Regions from separate parts of the Homo sapiens genome. Here regions 2, 3, 4 and 5 are each reported to be linked to region 1. Evidence: microRNA targets listed by miRTarBase, many of them from high-throughput screens and not tested one by one. Region 1 holds a microRNA gene; each other region holds the end of a gene's coding sequence.

The links. Region 1 holds the annotated microRNA hsa-miR-155-5p (UUAAUGCUAAUCGUGAUAGGGGUU, at 2,969-2,992, shown strand). A microRNA usually pairs through its seed, bases 2 to 8, with sites in the 3' UTR of a target mRNA and lowers its output. Matches are read on the target gene's strand: a 7mer-m8 pairs with bases 2 to 8, a 7mer-A1 pairs with bases 2 to 7 and ends in A, and an 8mer does both.
Region 2: miRTarBase lists RTN3 as a target of hsa-miR-155-5p. Seed matches in the 3' UTR shown: 7mer-m8 at 2,124-2,130.
Region 3: the mRNA of CLTA is a reported target of hsa-miR-155-5p. The part of its 3' UTR that is shown has no 7-base or 8-base seed match.
Region 4: the mRNA of ZSWIM6 is a reported target of hsa-miR-155-5p. Seed matches in the 3' UTR shown: 8mer at 2,358-2,365.
Region 5: miRTarBase lists KCTD3 as a target of hsa-miR-155-5p. Seed matches in the 3' UTR shown: 7mer-m8 at 2,760-2,766 and 7mer-m8 at 3,154-3,160.

Annotation. Positions count from the first base shown.
Region 1 is chr21:25,571,015-25,575,660 of GRCh38, forward strand. It overlaps MIR155 (microRNA 155), which reads left to right and starts at 2,966; the gene lies at 2,966-3,030. It overlaps MIR155HG (MIR155 host gene), which reads left to right. Exons shown (of 3, transcript NR_001458.3): 3 at 2,879-4,154. RefSeq lists a silencer at 2,910-3,089 and an enhancer at 4,641-4,646.
Region 2 is chr11:63,756,830-63,761,475 of GRCh38, forward strand. RTN3 (reticulon 3) reads left to right here. Exons shown (of 9, transcript NM_001265589.2): 9 at 1,327-3,053. The coding sequence ends at 1,372. ZFTA (zinc finger translocation associated) reads right to left here. Exons shown (of 5, transcript NM_001144936.2): 5 at 3,063-4,646. Among named protein-coding and RNA genes, the nearest start is that of ZFTA, 9.6 kb to the right of the region's middle.
Region 3 is chr9:36,209,773-36,214,418 of GRCh38, reverse strand. CLTA (clathrin light chain A) reads right to left here. Exons shown (of 5, transcript NM_001833.4): 5 at 2,360-2,816. The coding sequence ends at 2,645. It overlaps LOC124902151 (a long non-coding RNA gene), which reads left to right and starts at 408. Exons shown (of 2, transcript XR_007061474.1): 1 at 408-1,133.
Region 4 is chr5:61,543,032-61,547,677 of GRCh38, forward strand. ZSWIM6 (zinc finger SWIM-type containing 6) reads left to right here. Exons shown (of 14, transcript NM_020928.2): 14 at 424-3,141. The coding sequence ends at 1,286. Among named protein-coding and RNA genes, the nearest start is that of LINC03122, 92 kb to the right of the region's middle.
Region 5 is chr1:215,618,491-215,623,136 of GRCh38, forward strand. KCTD3 (potassium channel tetramerization domain containing 3) reads left to right here. Exons shown (of 18, transcript NM_016121.5): 16 at 396-580; 17 at 663-801; 18 at 1,567-3,317. The coding sequence ends at 2,128. USH2A (usherin) reads right to left here. Exons shown (of 72, transcript NM_206933.4): 72 at 4,401-4,646. Among named protein-coding and RNA genes, the nearest start is that of KCTD3, 54 kb to the left of the region's middle.

The DNA of each region.
Region 1 (4,646 bases):
CTTTGGAGACAGAGTCTTGCTCTGTTGCCCAGGCTGGAGTGCAGTGGCACAATCTCGGCTCACTACTACCTTCTGCCTCCCAGGTTCAAGTGATCCTCCTGCCTCAGCCTCCTGAGTAGCTGGGATTATAGGCGTGCGCCACCACGCCTAGCTAATTTTTTTGTATTTTTAGTAGAGACGGGGTTTTACCATGTTGGTCACGCTGGTCTCAAACTCCTGACCTCATGATCCGCCCACCTCGGCCTCCCAAAATGCTAGGATTACAGGCATGAGACACCACACCCAGCCAGATATTCTTAAATCTTATGCTCACACTCCACCCCCCCCAAAAAAATTGTCCTTCAGGAAAGCATAATTTAAGGAAAAATTTCCCAAAGTGCCACCTTCAGCTTCATTCTTAGCACCAGAGGAAGAATTGCCTGTCATATAATGAAAGATCCTTGGTGTTATCATTAATCTAGTATACATAGTGCTTCCTCTTGGTAGATTTTTACCTACTGTGAGAAGGAATGATTTTGATACTCAGACAGTGTGTAGTAATTTGTTAAGAACATTTAACTTGGAACCTATGCTACACAGTAAAACTTATACTGACAATGGATATTTCATGTGGTAGGCCTAAGAAGTATTGTGGAGTGAGGGGACTGGAAGTATATCTGCAGAACTACCTAGTCAAAGACCCCAGTCTAATTTCTAATATATAATTCATATAAATTACTCTTGCATTGCTATACATTAAACATTATGCTTGTCACATTCTTACTTGGTTAGCACTGTCACTACTGATTGTCAGGCCTATAATTGTGTATAATTCTTCCCCTGCCACTTTACCAGCTGGTGGCCACACCGATTCCAGAAAGAACTACTTTATTTCTTATTACCTCATGAAAGCACCCTCTGCCCAGTGCCTTGGCTAATAGACTGGCCTTTGTTGTCTATGACCACTAATTCCCACTCAGGCATATAGCAATTCTGTTGTTGGTTGCTTAGCCCAGTCAAAAACACTGGAAGTGGACATAGACTCCACACTGATGAATGAATGACCTTCTAGTCATTCTAATGTCCTTAAAAGTCTACTATTTTTAAATTGTAGAATATATATATATATATATATATTTTTTTTTTTTTCTGGGATATTTCTCCTTTCTTCTGTTCATTAATGTTTTTCATCTATCATTGTGTTTTAAATATGACCTAAGGTTCTATAGTATATTTAGACAAACTTCTCATTTCTCTGCAGTGTTCGGAATTCATCATGCCTGTATGACAAGGTTGTGTTTGAGAACAAAAGGGGACCTGTGTGACATGTTTTATTTCAATATACATTTAGAGTTTGAACAAATAAAAAAAGCTATTAGAATTTTTAATATATATAACACATTATCAAAAACACTGTCACTTTTCTGAGTGCTCTAATCAGGCAATTCGTATGTATATTTAAAAAGAGGGAAAAAGCTAATTAGTATACTAAATATATTTATTTTAATACCTGTGCTCATATGTTATCTTTAAAGAACAGGAATAAAATTTATGGGTAGAATAGTATGCCAGCAATTTACCTTCAATACAAATTAAACACATCTTTTAAGAAAAGGGCGAGTTATATTGGCTGGGGTGGCACTAACACTACATTATTAATATGTATTTATTGAGCATTTACTGTGTCCAGGACCCTGTAAGGGGGAAAAAAAGTCCTTGTTTTTACAATCTTTATTGACTGAAATTCTGTAAAATGAATTGAATTCCTGAAGTGACATCATTTAACCCAAATTTTTTCATCATCAACTAATTCATCTCAGAAAACAGTAAAGTTTAAAAAAAAATACTATCAGTAAGAATAATATATTTCCTTGGTTTGGAAATTTCCAAACCACGATATTCTGCCCTGTCAAAATATATTCACTGGGGAATTTTTTACTTCATACGTTTCTTTTGAACTTAGTCACATTTTTATATCTAGCTGGTTTCATTATTAAATAAAAGAAAAGGTGATTCCCCTCTTGTACTGCAGGAGACCACATACTTGAATGATACTCTAACTTCTAGGTTCTGTTATAGTAACACTGAAATCAGAAACCTGTGGGAGAAATGTCACTTTATCTGAGAGAGTAAAATCAGACTCTAAAAGGAAGTAGCAAATTCATCTTGTTCTTTTTTTTAATCAACCCTCTGCCTAAGACAAGTAGTTTGAAACACAGAGGACTCTTTAAGTCATACTTCCTTTATGTAGTCAAAACCAAAGCCACTGGGTAGTGCTTTCCCCAAAGGAATCTCTAAATAGTAGACGGGGACATTTTCAGATAGATTCGTTTGTAGGCAAACCTCCATTGCTTGTATCACATTTCCTGAAAGAATAAAGGTAAAACTTCAACTATGTATTACAGAAAGAAAAATTCAGCCTGAACCCTACCCTTATAAAACAGGTTAATTGGGTTTTAATTTTCATAAATCATAAAGGACTATTTTGAACATTTGGGCCTTTAATTGTCTAGCTCCTAGATGAAGTACAAATCAGAAAAAAAAAAAACTGTACTGTGTCAGAATGCAAGCTTTCCTCTTTGCATTTTGGCATTTGAAAACTCCGAAGAGCGGTTTTTGTTTTTTATTTAAAGAAGATGATACATATGTGTACCCGATTCAAAACTAGAGAATAGAATTTAAAACATAATTTTCAAAGTCTTCAAATATGCCTAAAGGTAACAATGTCATCTTTTAATTGCCAATTTCTCTACCACTTTCAAAAAATTACTTCCAAGGATTTAATGAGCTCCTTCCTTTCAACAGAAAATGGACTATTTTCCTTTCAGATTTACTATATGCTGTCACTCCAGCTTTATAACCGCATGTGCATACACAAACATTTCTTTCTCTCTTGCAGGTGGCACAAACCAGGAAGGGGAAATCTGTGGTTTAAATTCTTTATGCCTCATCCTCTGAGTGCTGAAGGCTTGCTGTAGGCTGTATGCTGTTAATGCTAATCGTGATAGGGGTTTTTGCCTCCAACTGACTCCTACATATTAGCATTAACAGTGTATGATGCCTGTTACTAGCATTCACATGGAACAAATTGCTGCCGTGGGAGGATGACAAAGAAGCATGAGTCACCCTGCTGGATAAACTTAGACTTCAGGCTTTATCATTTTTCAATCTGTTAATCATAATCTGGTCACTGGGATGTTCAACCTTAAACTAAGTTTTGAAAGTAAGGTTATTTAAAAGATTTATCAGTAGTATCCTAAATGCAAACATTTTCATTTAAATGTCAAGCCCATGTTTGTTTTTATCATTAACAGAAAATATATTCATGTCATTCTTAATTGCAGGTTTTGGCTTGTTCATTATAATGTTCATAAACACCTTTGATTCAACTGTTAGAAATGTGGGCTAAACACAAATTTCTATAATATTTTTGTAGTTAAAAATTAGAAGGACTACTAACCTCCAGTTATATCATGGATTGTCTGGCAACGTTTTTTAAAAGATTTAGAAACTGGTACTTTCCCCCAGGTAACGATTTTCTGTTCAGGCAACTTCAGTTTAAAATTAATACTTTTATTTGACTCTTAAAGGGAAACTGAAAGGCTATGAAGCTGAATTTTTTTAATGAAATATTTTTAACAGTTAGCAGGGTAAATAACATCTGACAGCTAATGAGATATTTTTTCCATACAAGATAAAAAGATTTAATCAAAAAATTTCATATTTGAAATGAAGTCCCAAATCTAGGTTCAAGTTCAATAGCTTAGCCACATAATACGGTTGTGCGAGCAGAGAATCTACCTTTCCACTTCTAAGCCTGTTTCTTCCTCCATATGGGGATAATACTTTACAAGGTTGTTGTGAGGCTTAGATGAGATAGAGAATTATTCCATAAGATAATCAAGTGCTACATTAATGTTATAGTTAGATTAATCCAAGAACTAGTCACCCTACTTTATTAGAGAAGAGAAAAGCTAATGATTTGATTTGCAGAATATTTAAGGTTTGGATTTCTATGCAGTTTTTCTAAATAACCATCACTTACAAATATGTAACCAAACGTAATTGTTAGTATATTTAATGTAAACTTGTTTTAACAACTCTTCTCAACATTTTGTCCAGGTTATTCACTGTAACCAAATAAATCTCATGAGTCTTTAGTTGATTTAAAATAATTTTTATGGCCCATTTTCTTTTGCAAAGTACAAATTATAATTCCAGAAGCTATCTGCCAAAAAAAGACAATGGAAGAAAATTATGAGGACACTAAAGGGAACATTCCTGACTCCTAGGACACAGTATTCTCATGTAAGAATACCCATTTGGCTTTGCCCCACTTTCTGTTCAAGTTGTATGTGCTGCCAAGACAAATTTCTTCTCCTCACTTTCTGTTCAAGTTGTATGTGCTGCCAACACAAATTTCTTCTCCTAACACCTGGAATGAGCTTGTGGCTCCACGGAGCTCCCATGTAGGTAGAACACATTCAAGAGTGTTTCTTCAGGCCAGGCACAGTGGCTCACGCCTATAATTCCAACACTTTGGGAGGCCAAGGCGGGTGGTTCACTTGAGGTCAGGAGTTCTACACTACCCTGGCCAACATAGTGAAACCTCGTCTCTACTAAAAATACAAAAATTAGCTAGGCATGGTGGTGCGTGCCTGTAATCC
Region 2 (4,646 bases), not on the chromosome of region 1:
GAGGTCAGGAGTTCGAGACCAGCCTGGCCAACATAGTGAAACCCCATCTCTACTAAAAATACAAAAATTAGCCAGGTGTGGTGGCATGCAACTTTAGTCCCAGCTACTCAGGAGGCTGAGGAGGGAGAATTGCTTGAACCTGGGAGGCGAGGTTGCAGTGAGCAGAGACCATGCCATTGCACTCCAGCCTGGGTGACAGTGAGACTCCGTCTCAAAAAAAAACCAAAAAGTTATTGGTTGCTTCCCCACCTTCATTTATTTTCACATGTATTCATTTAAGCCAAACGTATCCCTCTCAGAAACAAAAGTTCTAGTAAATAAGTAACTTAAGGATCAAAGTTGTCTTTTCTAAGATTGCCAAATCTCTGTTCCCATTTTTTTAAACCAATTAATAAATCAGGAAATAAAATATTGACAAACATCTTTATGACTCCCTATATCAAAGAGTTGTTTTCTTCTTTTTACTTTTTTTCCCCATACCTAGAGGACAGTATTTTTTTTCTTTTTTCTTTTTTCTTTCTTTTTTGTTTTGCTTTCTAGAGACAGGGTCTCACTCTGTCACCCAGGTTGAAGTGCAGTGGCACAAGCTGAAAGCTCACTGCAGCCTTGACCTCTGACCTCCCTTGCTCCAAGTGATCCTCCCACCCCAGCCTCCTGAGTAGCTGACACTACAGGCATGTGCCATGCCCTGGCAAATTTTTTATTTTTTATAGAGATGGGGGTCTCACTATGTTGCCCAGGCCAGGCTTTAACTTCTGGCTTCAAGTGATCCTCCCACCTTGGCCTCACAAAGTGCTGAGATTACAGGCATGAGCCCTGCTTTTATTTTGAATTATTCATAGCAAATACTGTGAACCTAACGCTTTGAATTTGTTAACATTTTTCTTTTTTTCTTTTTTTTTTTTTTTTTGAGATGGAGTCTCGCTGTCACCCAGGCTGGAGTGCAGTGGTGCGATGTCTGCTCACTGCAGCCTCCACCTCCCGGGTTCAAGCGATTATCCTTCATTCACCTGCCTCAGCCTCCTGAGTAGCTGGGATTACAGGTGCACACCAACACGCCTGGCTAATTTTTGCATTTTTTAGTAGAGACAGGGTTTCACCACATTGGCCAGGCTGGTCTTCAACTCCTGACCTCATGATCTGCCTGCCTCGGACTCCCAAAGTGCTGGGATTACACGCGTGAGCCACCATACCCAGCCGGGAGAATGCATTTCACATTGCTTATGCAAGTCCAGGACTGTCCTCTAGCATCACAGTTAAAATAAAAACCTAGAGCAAATGCTAATGTTTTCACTTTCTTTCTTTTTCCCCTCCTTTTCTCAATAGGATCCAAGCAAAACTCCCTGGAATCGCCAAAAAAAAGGCAGAATAAGTACATGGAAACCAGAAATGCAACAGTTACTAAAACACCATTTAATAGTTATAACGTCGTTACTTGTACTATGAAGGAAAATACTCAGTGTCAGCTTGAGCCTGCATTCCAAGCTTTTTTTTTAATTTGGTGTTTTCTCCCATCCTTTCCCTTTAACCCTCAGTATCAAGCACAAAAATTGATGGACTGATAAAAGAACTATCTTAGAACTCAGAAGAAGAAAGAATCAAATTCATAGGATAAGTCAATACCTTAATGGTGGTAGAGCCTTTACCTGTAGCTTGAAAGGGGAAAGATTGGAGGTAAGAGAGAAAATGAAAGAACACCTCTGGGTCCTTCTGTCCAGTTTTCAGCACTAGTCTTACTCAGCTATCCATTATAGTTTTGCCCTTAAGAAGTCATGATTAACTTATGAAAAAATTATTTGGGGACAGGAGTGTGATACCTTCCTTGGTTTTTTTTTGCAGCCCTCAAATCCTATCTTCCTGCCCCACAATGTGAGCAGCTACCCCTGATACTCCTTTTCTTTAATGATTTAACTATCAACTTGATAAATAACTTATAGGTGATAGTGATAATTCCTGATTCCAAGAATGCCATCTGATAAAAAAGAATAGAAATGGAAAGTGGGACTGAGAGGGAGTCAGCAGGCATGCTGCGGTGGCGGTCACTCCCTCTGCCACTATCCCCAGGGAAGGAAAGGCTCCGCCATTTGGGAAAGTGGTTTCTACGTCACTGGACACCGGTTCTGAGCATTAGTTTGAGAACTCGTTCCCGAATGTGCTTTCCTCCCTCTCCCCTGCCCACCTCAAGTTTAATAAATAAGGTTGTACTTTTCTTACTATAAAATAAATGTCTGTAACTGCTGTGCACTGCTGTAAACTTGTTAGAGAAAAAAATAACCTGCATGTGGGCTCCTCAGTTATTGAGTTTTTGTGATCCTATCTCAGTCTGGGGGGGAACATTCTCAAGAGGTGAAATACAGAAAGCCTTTTTTTCTTGATCTTTTCCCGAGATTCAAATCTCCGATTCCCATTTGGGGGCAAGTTTTTTTCTTCACCTTCAATATGAGAATTCAGCGAACTTGAAAGAAAAATCATCTGTGAGTTCCTTCAGGTTCTCACTCATAGTCATGATCCTTCAGAGGGAATATGCACTGGCGAGTTTAAAGTAAGGGCTATGATATTTGATGGTCCCAAAGTACGGCAGCTGCAAAAAGTAGTGGAAGGAAATTGTCTACGTGTCTTGGAAAAATTAGTTAGGAATTTGGATGGGTAAAAGGTACCCTTGCCTTACTCCATCTTATTTTCTTAGCCCCCTTTGAGTGTTTTAACTGGTTTCATGTCCTAGTAGGAAGTGCATTCTCCATCCTCATCCTCTGCCCTCCCAGGAAGTCAGTGATTGTCTTTTTGGGCTTCCCCTCCAAAGGACCTTCTGCAGTGGAAGTGCCACATCCAGTTCTTTTCTTTTGTTGCTGCTGTGTTTAGATAATTGAAGAGATCTTTGTGCCACACAGGATTTTTTTTTTTTTTTAAGAAAAACCTATAGATGAAAAATTACTAATGAAACTGTGTGTACGTGTCTGTGCGTGCAACATAAAAATACAGTAGCACCTAAGGAGCTTGAATCTTGGTTCCTGTAAAATTTCAAATTGATGTGGTATTAATAAAAAAAAAAAAAACACAAACAATGACTGTGGCATCATTCTGCTAACTTTATTCTTTATACACAGTTTGGGTAAAGTAAGAACCAAACACTGCTTCCACTCCCCCTATCCTCACTCCACTTTGGGGACTTTAAAAAGTGACTAATAGTTGGTACTCGTAAGGATTCCCAAGACTGCAGAATTTAGTTGTACAGCATAACTGTGCATTTGATCTCTGAAAGAAAATAAGAGACCCTCTAAGAGGTGGTGACCTTAGAAGAATGAGGAGGGGTCAGGGGGTCTTTTACCCCAGTTCAGCCTCACACCAGCCTGGGAGATTTTCCCACCTGCAACGCAAAGCAGCCTGTAAATTACATATAGCCACAATACACTTAAATTGAGTCAATCACCGTGGAAAATGGGAACTAAATACATCATCAGGTCTTCATTGAAAGAACTTGAGTGGTCACCTGTGATTAGCTCTTCTCCTAAACTAAGGCTGCTGTGACCCTTAAGCTGGCTTTTAAAAATGTATTCAACATACCTCTTAGAAAACTTAGGCTGAAATATTTTTTAAATGACTGATGCAAACAATTTCACAAATACGCATACAAATGTTTGAATAATGTCACTAAGTAACATGGTATATAAATATGTATTCAGAGTAACATTTACATATTGGCCATAATAGCAAGCATACCATTAACAACAACAACAAAAAAAATCATGAAGAGACTTCACCTGTTCATGTCAGAATCCCAAGGCAAGGAGGCACACCTAGGCAAGAGGGCCAACTCAACTTGCAACGTCTAACCTGTGAGGCCATAACTTCCATCAAAGCAGGAATCAATGGAATCACTACCGCAGCCCTTCCCTTTCACTGGTGCCCGGCACTTCAGCTGCATCAAGATCAATGGAGGGCTCATGAAAACACTGCTAGGCCCCAACCAAGTTTCTGATTCAGTAACCCTGGGGTATGGCCCAAGAATTTTTATTTCTAGCAGATTCCTAAGGTGATGCTGCTGGTCTCAGGGACACACTTTGAGAGCCACTGGTGTGTTTGGGGCTGTCTCAGTAAAGATGTCCACTCTCCTGAGGCCTCTCTCTGCCTACGGAGGGGGGGGAATCTAACCCCTCTGCCCTGGCTTATCCGAACTTTGGCAGTGGGCTTGAGTGATTATAAATTGGTTCCCCCAATTTGCCTACTGTTTTTGAATGGGCAGAGTAAAAAAAGTGGTGTTAATACTCTGGATCCGAAAAAATGCATGAAGGAAAGTAAAAGAATGGCAGTGCCCAGCCTGGTGCCATCCATAATCTCCGTTCTCAAGCTTTTAATACTGTCTCAAAAACCGTGGAGGTTCAAACTCACTGGGAATTTACTTTTCAGTCAATTGACAACCCATTCAGGATCTTCCTGAATCCCTGGTGGCCTCCACAACAAAAAGCACAAAGCCCCCTGCCGAGGCAGCCTTGGGCCCTGCGGCAGCCGCCCCACCTCTGGAGTTCTGCTGGGGAGGGGAAGGACGATTGGATGGCGCCTTCCAGCTGAGGCCCTGCAGAGCTCAGTGTGCTCATCCCAAGGCAGTGTGCAGGGCTTTGCCACCTTCAGGAGTCACAGATCCACCGTGG
Region 3 (4,646 bases), not on the chromosome of region 1:
CGTAACTCATTAGCCAAAAGCATTTTCCTTCCCAGAAGAGATTTAATTGTTGCACTGCTTACGTTTTGAAGGTTATATAACTTCCTTAAGGCCTCTAATATCATTGCTTTCTTAACCAAAAAAAGTCTATTAATAGAAAGCATGGCTGGGCATGGTGCCTCATGCCTGTAATCCCAGCACTTTGGGAGGCTGAGGCAGAAAGATTGCTTGAACCCTAGAGTTCGAGACCAGCCTGGGCAACATGCCAAAACCCCATCTCTACAAAACAATACAAAAAAAATTAGCCAGGCATGGTGCAGTCTCAGCTACTCAGGAGGCTGAGGTGGGAGGATCACCTGAGCCCGGGAAGTGGAGGCTGCAGTAAGTTAGTTATGATCATGCCATTGCACTCTAGCCTGGGCGACACAGTGAGACCCTGTCTCAAAAACAACAAAAACAAAACATTGCTATATATAACATTGAAAATTTGGCATAAAAAAGCAAAGTAGCCCCCAAGAAAGAGGTTTGAAACTAAGTGTTAAGCATTTACTGAGTCCCTAGACCCACTCCCTCTTTTTATGAGGCCCTATGTGGGTCTCATACAGGCATTAGAAACAATCCCAAATTACTATTGCTGTGTAACCTCAAAACTGAAGAGCTTAAAACAACAGTAATTGTTTCACGTCGTGGTTTCTGTGGGTCAGGATTTGGGAAAGGCTCAAACTTGACAGTTGTAGCTCAAGAGTATCCTGCACTTGTAGTTGTCAGCTGGAATAGCACGAGGCTGGCTGGCCAGGCATCTCCCAATGTGTGTGGTTACAGGGTCTCTCAGGTGGCCTCTCTGTGGGCTAGTTTGGGCTTCCTCACCACATGGGTAGCTTCAAAGGTAGAATTTTTTATGAGGCGGCTCAGGGCCACCAGCTAGTTGCTCCAACAAATCAACCATCAGCAGCACTGCCTTTTATGACCTAGCCTTGGAAGTCATCCCAGCATCACTTTTGTCACATTATTCAGTCACCTCTCCATCTAGAGAATGTCACAGATTTTGTTGACATTTAAAATTGCCACCTCCCACCTCAAGAAGCCCAGCTGGTGTGGGAGGCAAGACTGGTCCAGACGATGGCACCAAGACTACCAAAAATAAGCTGCCCCAGGTAGATGGCCATGGGAGTTCAGGGGAAGGGGGGTGGCCTTTGAACTAGTTCTTAAATTGGATTTTGACATTTGGAATGGGATTAGCAGGTCCCGTAGGAACAAAAGTCTGGGAACAATGATTGCTTGATTGTAATAAGATTTGACTAAAGGGGGAGGAATAAGCAGAGGCCAGAAATGTGGGCCAGGTCAAGGAAAGCCCAACTAAGCTTGGAAACGGGGAGGTAGCAGGAAAAGTAATGAAAGCTCCTTCCAGCCAAAAATAATTAACATTGAAGAGATAGTGGCCTTTCCTTCTTGGCAATGGCAACACCTAACCCCCATCCTGAGCATAGTATTACAGTTTACCTCAATCTCCAGTTTGGAAGTACCAGGTAGTTATAAGCAGATTACTGAAATATAGCTTTAATAATTGCTTGGAACATCACCTAAAACGAGCCAGGTACTATGCCAGGTTCTGAAGACAGATAATGAACTTACTGGTGTCTGAACAAAGCACGGGCTCCTGGAAACACCTGTGGTAGATCAGCATGGTCCAGTGCAGCTTTCTGCGACCATGGACATGTTCTATAACCTGTGCTATCCGAGTGCCACCTAACCACATATGGCTACTGAGCACATGAATTGTGACTAGGACTAGAAATGTATTTTAAATTCATTTAAATAGCCACATGGGCCTGGTGAATACTGCACTGGACAGCACAGGTCTAGATGAAGGATTTTACAAGAGAAATATGAACCAAGTGCTTGGGATGGCACAGAACCCAACATGTGCTACAGGACTCAACAGTAATGGGGCTAGCCACACATGAATGCCGTCCTGACTCAGGCTTACTGGCCGGATCCAAAGGAGTCAAGGTCTTACTAGAGTCTACGTGCCCCACAGACTCCTGCCGAAATATACTATCCAAGACCCTAAACTGAGGGACACTGGCAAGCAAGAGCCCATCTGGGAGAAAACGACTAGGTTGGTGAGAGGATTCACAGCTGTGTCTTAGGTAGATAATGAGGGGGTTAACCTTCAGCCACTAAACTCCCTTCTCAAATGAAAATGTCCACAGGATCCCACTCTAGATCCCGGTGCTATCTTAGTTCAAGGCAGGGCTGTGTGCCCAGTGGCTGTGCCTCCTCAGCCCTAGAAATTTCAAGGAAATTCCTCCTGGAAATTCCTTCCAACCTCACTCCAAACTACAACACATCTTGAGGTCAATAAAGAAGCTTCACATAATACAGTTTGAAACAGAAATTTATTCTCAGAATAATGCACAGAAGCACAGGTTGAGGCTACTCTTGGGAAGCTTCCCTCCCCTTCCTCTTCCTCCTCTCCCTCCTCTCTGAATGCCAGGGAGAACACAGTTGAAGGAAGGAAACATGCAATCACAAACAATGAACAACTCTAAAGACAAAAAGGTTTGGTCCAAAAGAACTCAACATAATTAATCCAATGACTGTGAAGAGCTTCACTGAGTAGGATTAAGATATTGCAGATGTAGTGTTTCCACAGGGTGGCTCTTCAGTGCACCAGCGGGGCCTGCTTGAGGGAGATGAGGACTGAGCGCATGCGGGAGACATCTTTGGCCTGCTTGCTAGACTTGGGGTTAAAGTCACACAGCCGGGCCACCCGTTCCCACTCAGTGCCTGGGGACGACTCGTCAATGTCATTTACAAAGGCTTCTTCTGCTGCCCTGGAAGCAACAACAAAATATGTTGGTTTATGCAGAACCCCCTTTGAGCAACCTGGTGGCTGCCTTGCTACACAAGCAACTGCCTATTTGTCCCTTTCTTAATGACATTCTGGCTTTCCCAAGATAACAGCCCCTGGCCCAGGTCAGACTCAGGTAGACACGTAGCTGGCTCTCCTAGGCACAGGGTGCCCAGACCGCTGTGTAAAATGTTGGAATACAGGTGTTTGGTTCAAGGCTCACTATGTCTCTCTGTCTGTCTCTGCTCCTGTGGAGCATTAATAAAACAAGTCCTTAGCCAGCTACACACTGCTTTTATTAATAAGAACAAAGCAGCAGGCTGATCAAGAACTTGAGTAGTTTATGCTGGGCTGTACTGAATTTCAAGGAAATTTAGAGACTTCTAAAAAGCCCACAGATCATTGCACAATAGCCTCTAGATTTATTCCTAAGGCTGGAGAGAAACGGGGCAGATCAAAAGGAATTCAAGACAAAGCTCCCATGCTAGCAAGCACTAGAGACTAAAGCCATTCTGGAAGGGGGTTTGTTAGGACATTCTCCAGTTCAGCCAAAAGTTTGCCATTTTCCCTCCAGCCAGGTGCCTTGGGGCCACTCAGGGCACACTGGCAGGAGAGCCAACGTGAGTTGCTTTTTGGCAGGATGCTGCTCCAACATTCTTTCACATCAAGGTCAGCCCACCCCCAGTTCGGAATTAACTGGTGGGAGCTACAGCCGGAAAGGACAGCGCTAAGACACACTATATTCATCTACTCCAACAAGCATCACGGGCAAAGCAAAAGCAATGGAGATGACTGGTCTGTGGGGACGGAGGGGTGGCACTATCACAGGGATGGCCGTGGCAAACACCGCTGAAGCCCAGAGCCACTACAACACTGCGACTTCATGGCACACACAGTTAGGGGCAGTGAGAAAGGTTTACTTAACTGTTCTAGGCTGTAGCAAGGATGGTTTATGTTTGTGCTTAAAGGTGAAGAGAAGAAAAGAAACGAGAGAAACTTTAAGTCAGATATAGAAAATGAGAATGAGCTCAATGCAGATGGTCAGTAAGCTGGACATGCCCTTGCCACTCTATCTGTGCTTGGGGACGTGCAGCTGGCTTTGCTGGCCACCCAGCTGCCCAGCAAAACCAGACTCGACCTTTCCAGTCTCCATTTCTACTCCAGAGAGAATGTGCAGAAATCAAATCAAACACCACCTGTAAGTCCAGCATTTCACAAGTCTCACTGCAAATGCATCTGGGGGCCCAGGAAACCCAGTTCTATCTTCTAAGGGGATGAACATCTCAAGGTCATAGGCCCTGAGAGGCTCTACAGACCTGAGCTCATCGCCCACCTTCCACAGGTTCCTCTCCTCTTCCATTCCACCCTTACTTCTCATGTAAAGCCAGCCCTAATTTTTAAGGAGGAGACAATGAGAACTGTTTCCAACTCTTCAGCAATACTGCTTTGATAAAAGAAATCCTTAAAAAAAAGAAAAAAGAAAAAAAGAAAAAAAAAAGAATAAGAAAAACACCTTCTCCAGAGAAGATGCAGGTTTCTTTTGGGGGGGTCAGGGGGAGAAGCCCAAGTGGCCCGTATCAAGACACTTTGACTATCCTGATCTCAAAGCTGGGGGCTTCCCTGTGCTAGGAGACAGGACATCAGAAGCTGACCACTAAATAGCAATTTCTGACATGCAAGACCACAGAGGAACAATTATAGACACCCACTGGAGACAACCCCCTCTGCTCTGGACTCTTCTGCCTGAGGGAGAGGCAAACGACCCCACATTGTTTGAATGAACCAAGTATGGAAAATGCTGCCCCACAGCTCT
Region 4 (4,646 bases), not on the chromosome of region 1:
ACTTTTGTATTATGTGTACTTTTACCTTACACACAAGCACATAAGCCATGTAAAGTCCCTGTTTTGGTGAGGTTGCAATTTTTGAGCCTCAAATTCTGACAGGAAGCCCCAGTGAAGTAGAACTCATTAGCAAAAAGCCATTGTCTGAAATGGCAAGCAGCACAGTACAAATACCAGCTACCAAGAGGATTGGTTCTTTATTATAGCAAGTTCATGTTCCTTTCAGGCATTTCACTGAATAACAATTCATAATGACCTTATTCTTAAAGGTTTCTCACAGGCACATTACTTTACAGGATTTTCTAGCCTAGCTCATGTCCTATGATGGTTAACAATGTAAACACTGGTTGTAAAAGTCAAAATAAGGCAGGACCTCTGGGCAGCCTCCTCGTCAGTAATAGAGCCTGTTTGTGTTCCTTGCAGGGGTTTATGCCCTGGACAGCATCATGCAGACCTGGTTTACACTCTTTACTCCCACCGAGGCCACAAGTATAGTTGCAACTACCGTGATGTCCAACAGCACCATCGTCCGCCTCCACCTGGACTGCCACCAGCAGGAAAAGCTGGCCAGCAGCGCCCGGACACTTGCACTGCAGTGTGCCATGAAGGATCCACAGAACTGTGCCCTCTCTGCGCTAACCCTTTGTGAAAAGGATCACATAGCTTTTGAGACGGCGTACCAAATTGTTCTCGACGCTGCTACGACTGGCATGAGCTATACACAGCTCTTTACAATAGCACGGTACATGGAGCACCGCGGGTACCCCATGAGGGCCTACAAGCTGGCCACCCTGGCCATGACCCATCTCAACCTGAGCTACAATCAGGACACACACCCTGCCATTAATGATGTTTTGTGGGCCTGTGCGCTTAGCCACTCCCTTGGTAAAAATGAGCTTGCAGCTATAATACCTCTGGTGGTCAAGAGTGTCAAGTGTGCAACGGTACTGTCAGACATTTTGCGCAGATGCACTCTGACCACTCCTGGCATGGTGGGACTTCATGGGAGGAGGAACTCTGGTAAGCTCATGTCACTGGACAAAGCCCCCTTGAGGCAACTCTTGGATGCCACGATCGGGGCCTACATCAACACAACGCACTCACGGCTCACACACATCAGTCCTCGGCACTATAGTGAGTTTATAGAGTTCCTCAGCAAAGCCCGAGAGACCTTCTTAATGGCGCATGATGGACACATTCAGTTTACACAGTTTATTGACAACCTGAAACAAATCTACAAAGGCAAAAAGAAACTGATGATGTTGGTTCGGGAGAGGTTTGGTTGATAGATCTTGTATGAATGGGGTGGGGGGTGGGGATGGGAGGGATGGTTTGTTTTTACTTGAGCCTGCCTTTGTACCCTTTTTAACTTAAAGAACAGAGCCACACCGGTATTATATGTGTATAGTTATATTGCGTTTGCAGACTAAATTGTCATGTTGTGAAAGTTTGTGTGTTTTTTATTTTTTCCCTATTTCTTTCTTTCCTTTATTTTATTATTTTTTTTAATTTTTTTTTTCTGGTTTTGTATGAGAGAGAGGTTAAAAAGGTTTGGTTTACACTGAGTATATGTTGTCAAGTGGCAAAAGTCCACATAGCTCTCCTGTTTTCTGTATACGTTCACAGCCTCAAAAAAAATAATTGAAATGGCTTTAAAAACCAAACAAAACACCTCCATCCTGTGATAAGTACCTCGAATGGATTCAGCTTTACTCCTTTGTAACTCATCTTTACATTTTCAGCATATTTAAACAAACCAACAAAATGAAATACTAATAGTAAAAAGGCTGACCCATGTGGCTTTGCAGTGCTGTTCGTCCAGAAGCATGGCACACGATGCTTGTGCATGTGGAAACTTAGCGACTGTCAACATACATTCTCAGGGATTTATCCAAAAAAATTAAAAAAAGAATGAGAGCATTTATTGTACTGTATATATATTATAGTATATGTCTGAATATTGAAAATATAACATTAACTAATTTATAAAAAATATTCTATGTAATGCAAAATACTTGAAGCTGCAGTAGCTTGGTTTTAAACAAAAACAAAAAAAAAACTGAGAGAAAACCTATCAGAAGGACTAAAAGTACGCCTTGCTTCAGGGTTGGCTCAGGTGGTGAACTTCATGCTGGGCATCTATGCAGAGCCACCTTTTGGATTGCATGGTTGGACTGAGATCTATTGGGAGAAATTATATATGTATATATATTTATACAACTTATGTATACATATATATATGTATACACACAGACACACACACACACCACCAACAACCACCACTACACCACACATGCTTATAACAGGCACTAGAATAAAGAGGGACAACAAAATACACAGCCAGAGCAGCAAGCCTTAGCATTAAGAATATACAATATGCCGGAATTGGGGTTCGTGCCTCCTAGCCTAGGAAACTTAAAAGAAATATCCTTTTGACACAAAACACAAAATGTTTTCCAAAACAATTGACATAATGATACATTACGCCTTTGCAGTGAGCTAATAATAAGCTAACCTTTGTGCACAAATAACATTATATATATTATATATCTATTCTGCATAGGTATTTTGACTTTGTGCAGGACAGAAAGTTGTGTAGGTATGACTGTTCTACTTTTCAGTTTTCTTTTTTTTTAATATATTTTATTTTCTCTAGAAATTACTCAAACAAAAGCAGCCTTCTATCTTGCCTTGTCTTAATGCTTTAAAATAACCAAACTGGAGATCTAACTACCAAACTGTTCATTATATTATTAAATACCAACTTTGGTTACAGTATAGTGTCTTTACTTTAGCTGATGGTTCTGTAACCTTGTGCTTTTTAAAGCAATTTTTATGTTTTGGTGCAAAAGTTGTCCAGTGTCTCTTGTTCCCTTCACTAGAGAACATGCTTAGAGGTATGTTTGTAGGTATTTTTGTTTAGAAGAACTATTTCATGCGCTCCATTTTATTTATTATAATAGGTAAAAAGAAAAAAAAAGGTTGTAATTCATCACCCATGTAAACATGCTCATGAAGTTGAAAGTAATTAAGATTTGATACACTGATATCAATTTATTTATGTAACTAAATCACTGTTTTATAAACTTGTTAATGATCAACAATTTTTGTTTTGATTAAAATTAGTTTTTTGAAAGTTGATTCTGCCTCCTTTATGGTATATCTCTTATTGCACCTGAATTTGGTGATTATAGACTTGGGTAGTACTACGCCTCCAAGTGTCTAATACTATATTGACTCATCCAGTAAACGTTTATGTGCTATTTTCCAGGCACTGTGCTAGGCCCTGGAAATGTAATGGTGAACAAAATCAGACCCTGGACCTCACTGTCTGCTTAATGGAGAAGGCAGACATAAGCCAAATAATCACAAAGATAAAATATGAAACAGAATAGTCTGTTTTCTGTCTGAACCCTTGGTCGTTCCTCTAATAAGCTATAATTTAGGATGCTCAGTACTTAATATATTTAATAAAGGCTGAGTTTGTGAGATTTTCTTGTGTGTGTGGTTTAAAAGGAAGTTACATTATAAAGGGCAGATGCTACATGCACACCATAGTCACTTGTATCCAGTATTTCCATCAAGGATCTGTACCCAAAATGATGCAAATAGTTTTTGCGTGTATGTGGTTAAAAACAACATCACATAATTTACCATCTTAGGCATTTTGAAGTGTACAGTTCAGCAGTGTTAAAAATATTTACAAAGTTGTAAAACAGATCTCCAGAATTTTCTCATCTTGCAGAACTGAACTCTATATGCCCATTATGTGACTGCCCTTTTTCTCCTCCCTCCAGCCCCTGCTAGCCACAGCACTCTTGCTTTCTACTGTTACGATATTGTCTGTGATATTTTAGGCACCTCATGTAAGTGGAATCACAAAGTATTTGTCTTTTTGCAATGTTTATTTTACTTTTGTCCTACAGGCTCATCCATGTTGTAGTATGTGAGGGGATTTCCTTCTTTATGGCTGCATAGTTTTTCATTCATGTGTGTCTATATCACATCTAGTTTATTCATCCATCAGTGGACATTTGGATTCCTCCCACTTCTGGCTATTGTGAATAATGCTGCTGTGAACTTGAGGGTGGAAATACCTCTTTGAGGCCCTGCTTTCAATTCTTGTGGCTATATATCCAGAAGTGGGATTGACAAATACTTCTTTTAAATTCACAATTTTCAGAATACTTACTCCTTTGAAATGTTTTAAGTTTTTATTTGACATATAGTCTTAACAGTGGATTCCAAATGTCAAGAGGTTAAGTCGATAGGTGGAAGTTAAAGTAAATGAGTCCATGGTGACATTTAAAATCCCATTAATGCTAAGTAGAAATAAAAATAAAAACCATGAAGTGATTTGAAGGTTGATTCTTTTTTGTAAGTTTATTCTTACTTTTTTGGAAGTTGACATTGCCTGAGGGCAAATACAGTTTATGTGGGTCTACTGAAACGCTGGGACATTTCATAATGAAGTAGACTGTGATACGGTTAGGAAAGATGGCATCAAAGAAAGAAGAAAGGTGACTTCTAATAGTTAAGACTTTGAGATGTCCCCTGATGGAAATTGTTCTGTGTTAACTGGCCATTTTTGCAGAGAGATCTTAAACTCTCATGAGCTTTTAGAATACAGATGGAGACCAAGGATG
Region 5 (4,646 bases), not on the chromosome of region 1:
ATTCAGTCAAGTACAATTCAGTTAGCCCTTACGTGACTTTGGAACAATCATTTGCTGATGTTATCCCATTGTTTCCTGATCCGTCAATGTGGATAAAAATTGTTCTCTCTCAGGTTCTTTTATCTTTTATGAAAATCAACTAAAAAGTCATAAAAATCTTTTTTTGAAGTTGAGTATTATCCTAATGATGGATACAATATGGGCCATCTCCATAGAGCTGTATATTTTTTCTGGTTTCAGATTTTAAAGATTTACACATAAATTTTAAATGATTTTTTAAAAGTCTTTTCTAGTATAACATGTTTGCTTTCTTTCTTTCTGTCTTTTTAGTTTCATAGCTTCTTTTTAAATAATTGCTCATTCCCATCAGGGCTCTTTCTGCTTTTCTTTTGCAGAATATGTGAGATCCAGGCTGTTGACTGTACTACAATATCCTCATTTACAGTGAGGGAATGTGAGGGATCCAGTAGGATGGGCTCAAGACCAAGGCGCTACTTGTTCACAGGCCATACAAATGGCAGTATTCAAATGTGGGATCTGACCACTGCTATGGATATGGTTAACAAAAGTGAAGATAAGGGTAGGTTCTCATACAGAAAGATGTTTGTCACAAGGTTAAGCTTTTCACTTAAGTGATTTTAATGACTATTTGTTCTCCTAAGATGTAGGTGGTCCAACCGAAGAAGAGCTACTCAAATTACTCGATCAATGTGATTTGAGCACATCTCGCTGTGCTACTCCTAACATCAGTCCAGCAACTTCCGTAGTTCAGCATAGCCACTTACGAGAATCAAATTCTAGGTAGGTTAAAGAGTTGGGTATTATAAACAAAATTTATTTCTTTTGGGGAAATTGACTGAAATATTGTAATCACATAGTTGTTCTAGAAAGCCATACTTCTCAAGGTACATTTTAAATTCAGACATTATGTTAACTTTTTAACAGTTTTACCAAATTTCTTGATAGGCATATCTGGTTCTTTTCATAGAAAAACATTTTTACCTTTTAACTTATTTTGTGAATTGCTGCCCAATTGGAAGCCTATTATGTGATCAAGAATTTATTCAAAGGAAATTAGGAAAATTACATGTCACCTTGGTTAGTATGTGAAGCTTTAATTATTGTCCTGTCTCAGGGACAATATTTATCTGTGGTTCTATTATGTTGTCTAGTCTTACATTTAAGCATTATGTAATTTTAATACAAAGTTCCATAATGTCTTTTTAGTTATCATATTGATAAATTCCAAAGTCTGAAGAACCAAGGGCTAAATACTGAATTATGATGGTTTCACATTGGTTTCAAGGATTTTTCCTCCCATCTTTTTTTTAGCTGTTCAAAAATTCAGCATGTCTGTGAATATATGATGGTATTATTTGCATTGGTAATTTTATATACCATCTATATAATAAAGAGTACTTGATAAGTATATTTTTACAAAGAGAAATATGGATATAATACACTTTATGTATTTATATAGTGTGTTTTATTGGTTGTATAATTAATATGTTCCTGAGAAATCACAGAGTGAAATCTGAACTGTCATTTTTAAAAACTGTATTTCAGCCTTCAGCTTCAGCACCATGATACCACCCATGAAGCAGCTACTTACGGTTCCATGAGGCCTTACAGAGAAAGTCCTTTATTAGCAAGGGCAAGAAGGACTGAGAGCTTTCACAGTTATAGGGACTTCCAGACTATTAATTTGAACAGAAATGTAGAAAGAGCTGTCCCTGAAAATGGTAACTTGGGTCCAATACAAGCTGAAGTGAAAGGGGCAACAGGGGAATGTAATATATCTGAGAGAAAGTCTCCTGGAGTAGAAATAAAAAGTTTGAGAGAATTGGATAGTGGATTGGAAGTGCATAAAATAGCTGAAGGTTTTTCAGAATCCAAGAAAAGGTCATCAGAAGATGAAAATGAAAATAAAATAGAGTTTAGGAAGAAAGGAGGATTTGAAGGGGGAGGATTCCTTGGAAGAAAGAAAGTTCCCTATCTGGCGTCATCACCAAGTACTTCCGATGGAGGAACTGACTCACCTGGTACTGCGTCCCCATCTCCTACAAAGACTACTCCATCTCCTCGGCATAAAAAAAGTGATTCTTCAGGTCAGGAGTACAGCTTGTGAAAACTCACCAAAATGAATAGTTGTTTCGTTACATTTAGATGAAAGTTAAACTTTACTGAATTTCAGTACATTAGTTTTTACACTAAAACTTTACAAGATAAAATTGGACTTCATTTAGTATCTTTTTAACAGAATTACTTGGAATAATGAGATACAATAATCATATCTCTTTTGACATTTTGGAAATTTTTTTAATTTTACAAGTACATTTAACAGATCATTTATAAAGCAGGAGTCCATTTTAACACTTACCGACTTTTTTTGGTTTGGAAACATATTACCACGTCTTAATAGGATGGTGCCCATATAGGTGAGCATCCCTTTAGATCATGGGAACCAGCAGACTGCATTCCTAATCTTCATTATGCCTGAGACTTGTCTTACAATGTTACCTTTAAGTGAATCACATAATTGTCTTTGGAACTTGGTCTCCCAACACTTATTGTGATTGCAAAGTGTTTACCAGATATTTGATGAGGTGCTATGTTTGTGAAAAACATATCATGTAATTCAAAAACACTATTGATATTGAATACCAGATACCACTATGTAGTAAGTCTTTTAGGATGATTTTAATTTAGTCGTGCGTCATTTTCTGATTCTCATCATTGGGAGATCTTAAATCTTAGCAAGCATTAGCAATATTAAATGCCAAAATTCCATTGAAACTTTCAAGTTGGAGCAATTGTCTGTGTTTGAAAAGATGAAATAAAAATAATAATCAAGGGCAAAGCTTTGAGTGCCCAGAAGGGAAAGCTGTACCAGTTGCTAACCTGTCTTGTTTCAGGAGCCACCATGTTTTTTTTTCAGTGTTAACAACAATCATGATAATTAAATTAAAACACTAGTTTGTTCACTTGTAGGACTGCAGTTCTGAATTTTGGGTTAAAGGTTTTGGCTGCTGTAAGAATGTGAATTTGAATGTATTTTGAATTGTAAGAGCAAAAGAACGTTTTTGTACAATTTTTTTTCATTTAATTGGAATGATCTTCAGGTTTCTACAAATAGGGTAATTGTAAATTTAAAGCATTAGCATTTATTGGTGAATAATGTATATATCCCCATTCCAAGAAATATAAGTGAGTGAAGTTGAAATAAAATCTTTAAAATTTACTATATTGCCAGTGGTTTCACAACAGTTCTCTTGTATTTATTTATCAATTAAATCAAATAAAAATGATTATGTCAATGCGTTTTCAGTTATTTAAGTAACAGTTCTGTTTAAAGTGTGCTATATATGTTTGTTCATTTCTTTGCTTCTTCCCATAATTTAAAAAAAATGGGGGGAGGGAGAACTTAATATATGTGGAAAATAAGTTATTATCAATGAAAGAAAATATTAGGCAAAGCATAATTTCAAAATTACTAAGATTGTAATTATCTTACACCCTTCTTCCTCTTTATGACAGTTATGTGAAAGTTGGGTGGGCAAGTAAGAAAATGAAAGAAAAAACTAGACTCTAGTGACCAGGAATAAAAGGCCATTAAAAAGAAGATAGTAACTATTATGTAATAGAATCGCATAAAAAGGAAACTGACTATACTAGATTGCATTACAGTACAAGTCAAATCGTTTCTTTCTTTTGCTTACAGGAGATTGAACCTTGATGCAGTGGTTTATGTCTGTCTACTCTGACACTAATTTCTCAGATTGCCCCCATTATGCCTTAATTTTTTCATTATACCTACCTCATTAGGGTCGCTGTGGTGGGAAGAAAAAAAATTGAAATGAGTCTGTGTACTTTGTGTGATTGATGATGAAAAATGAAAACAATTGTAATTATTTTCATGGAAAGAAGTATTTTCATACCAATAGGGTAAGTAAGTAAGTGTTGTTGTTATCCTCATTTCACAGATGGGATCACTGAGACCCACAGGGGTTAAATAACTAACTTAGTGACAAGGCTTATTACCTACTGAGCCAACTTCTGAACCCAAATCTTTCTATTTCAAGAGTCTATGGTCCTGTTCCTGGCTCTTATGCAGGCTTATGTATCAGAAATGGCTGAGGTTAGACACATGGTTGCCCAGGCCTCACTCCCACTCCAGTCCTGCTGAATTTGAATCTCTGCTGGTTGAGACATAATAATAGTATATTTTGGAAAAAAAAATAAAACAGTTTTCATTCTAATAATGTACATTGTTGGTTGAGAAATTATCCAGAACATCCTACTTACTTTCTTAAATAGGTATAGCTTTATCATCATTTATGTGTAACTCAGAGCTGTTAAGAGTATTATTTTTTAATAATAAATAGATGATTAAGCCAGAATTAGGTCACATTCAAATATTTATTAAGCAAACCATCTTTAGATTAGTTTACATGATATTTGTGCATTGGAAACCAACTATTCATTTGTGACATAATTAAAAGTTCCTTATTAATGAATTCTTCCACTTGGACTATGTTTTATTTACCGGTGTGTTCATGGATGCCAGCATGATTTTTACATCAGTATATGGTACCATAACATTAATATTTGGGTTCCATTTAGTGGAAATTACAGTAGATTATAAA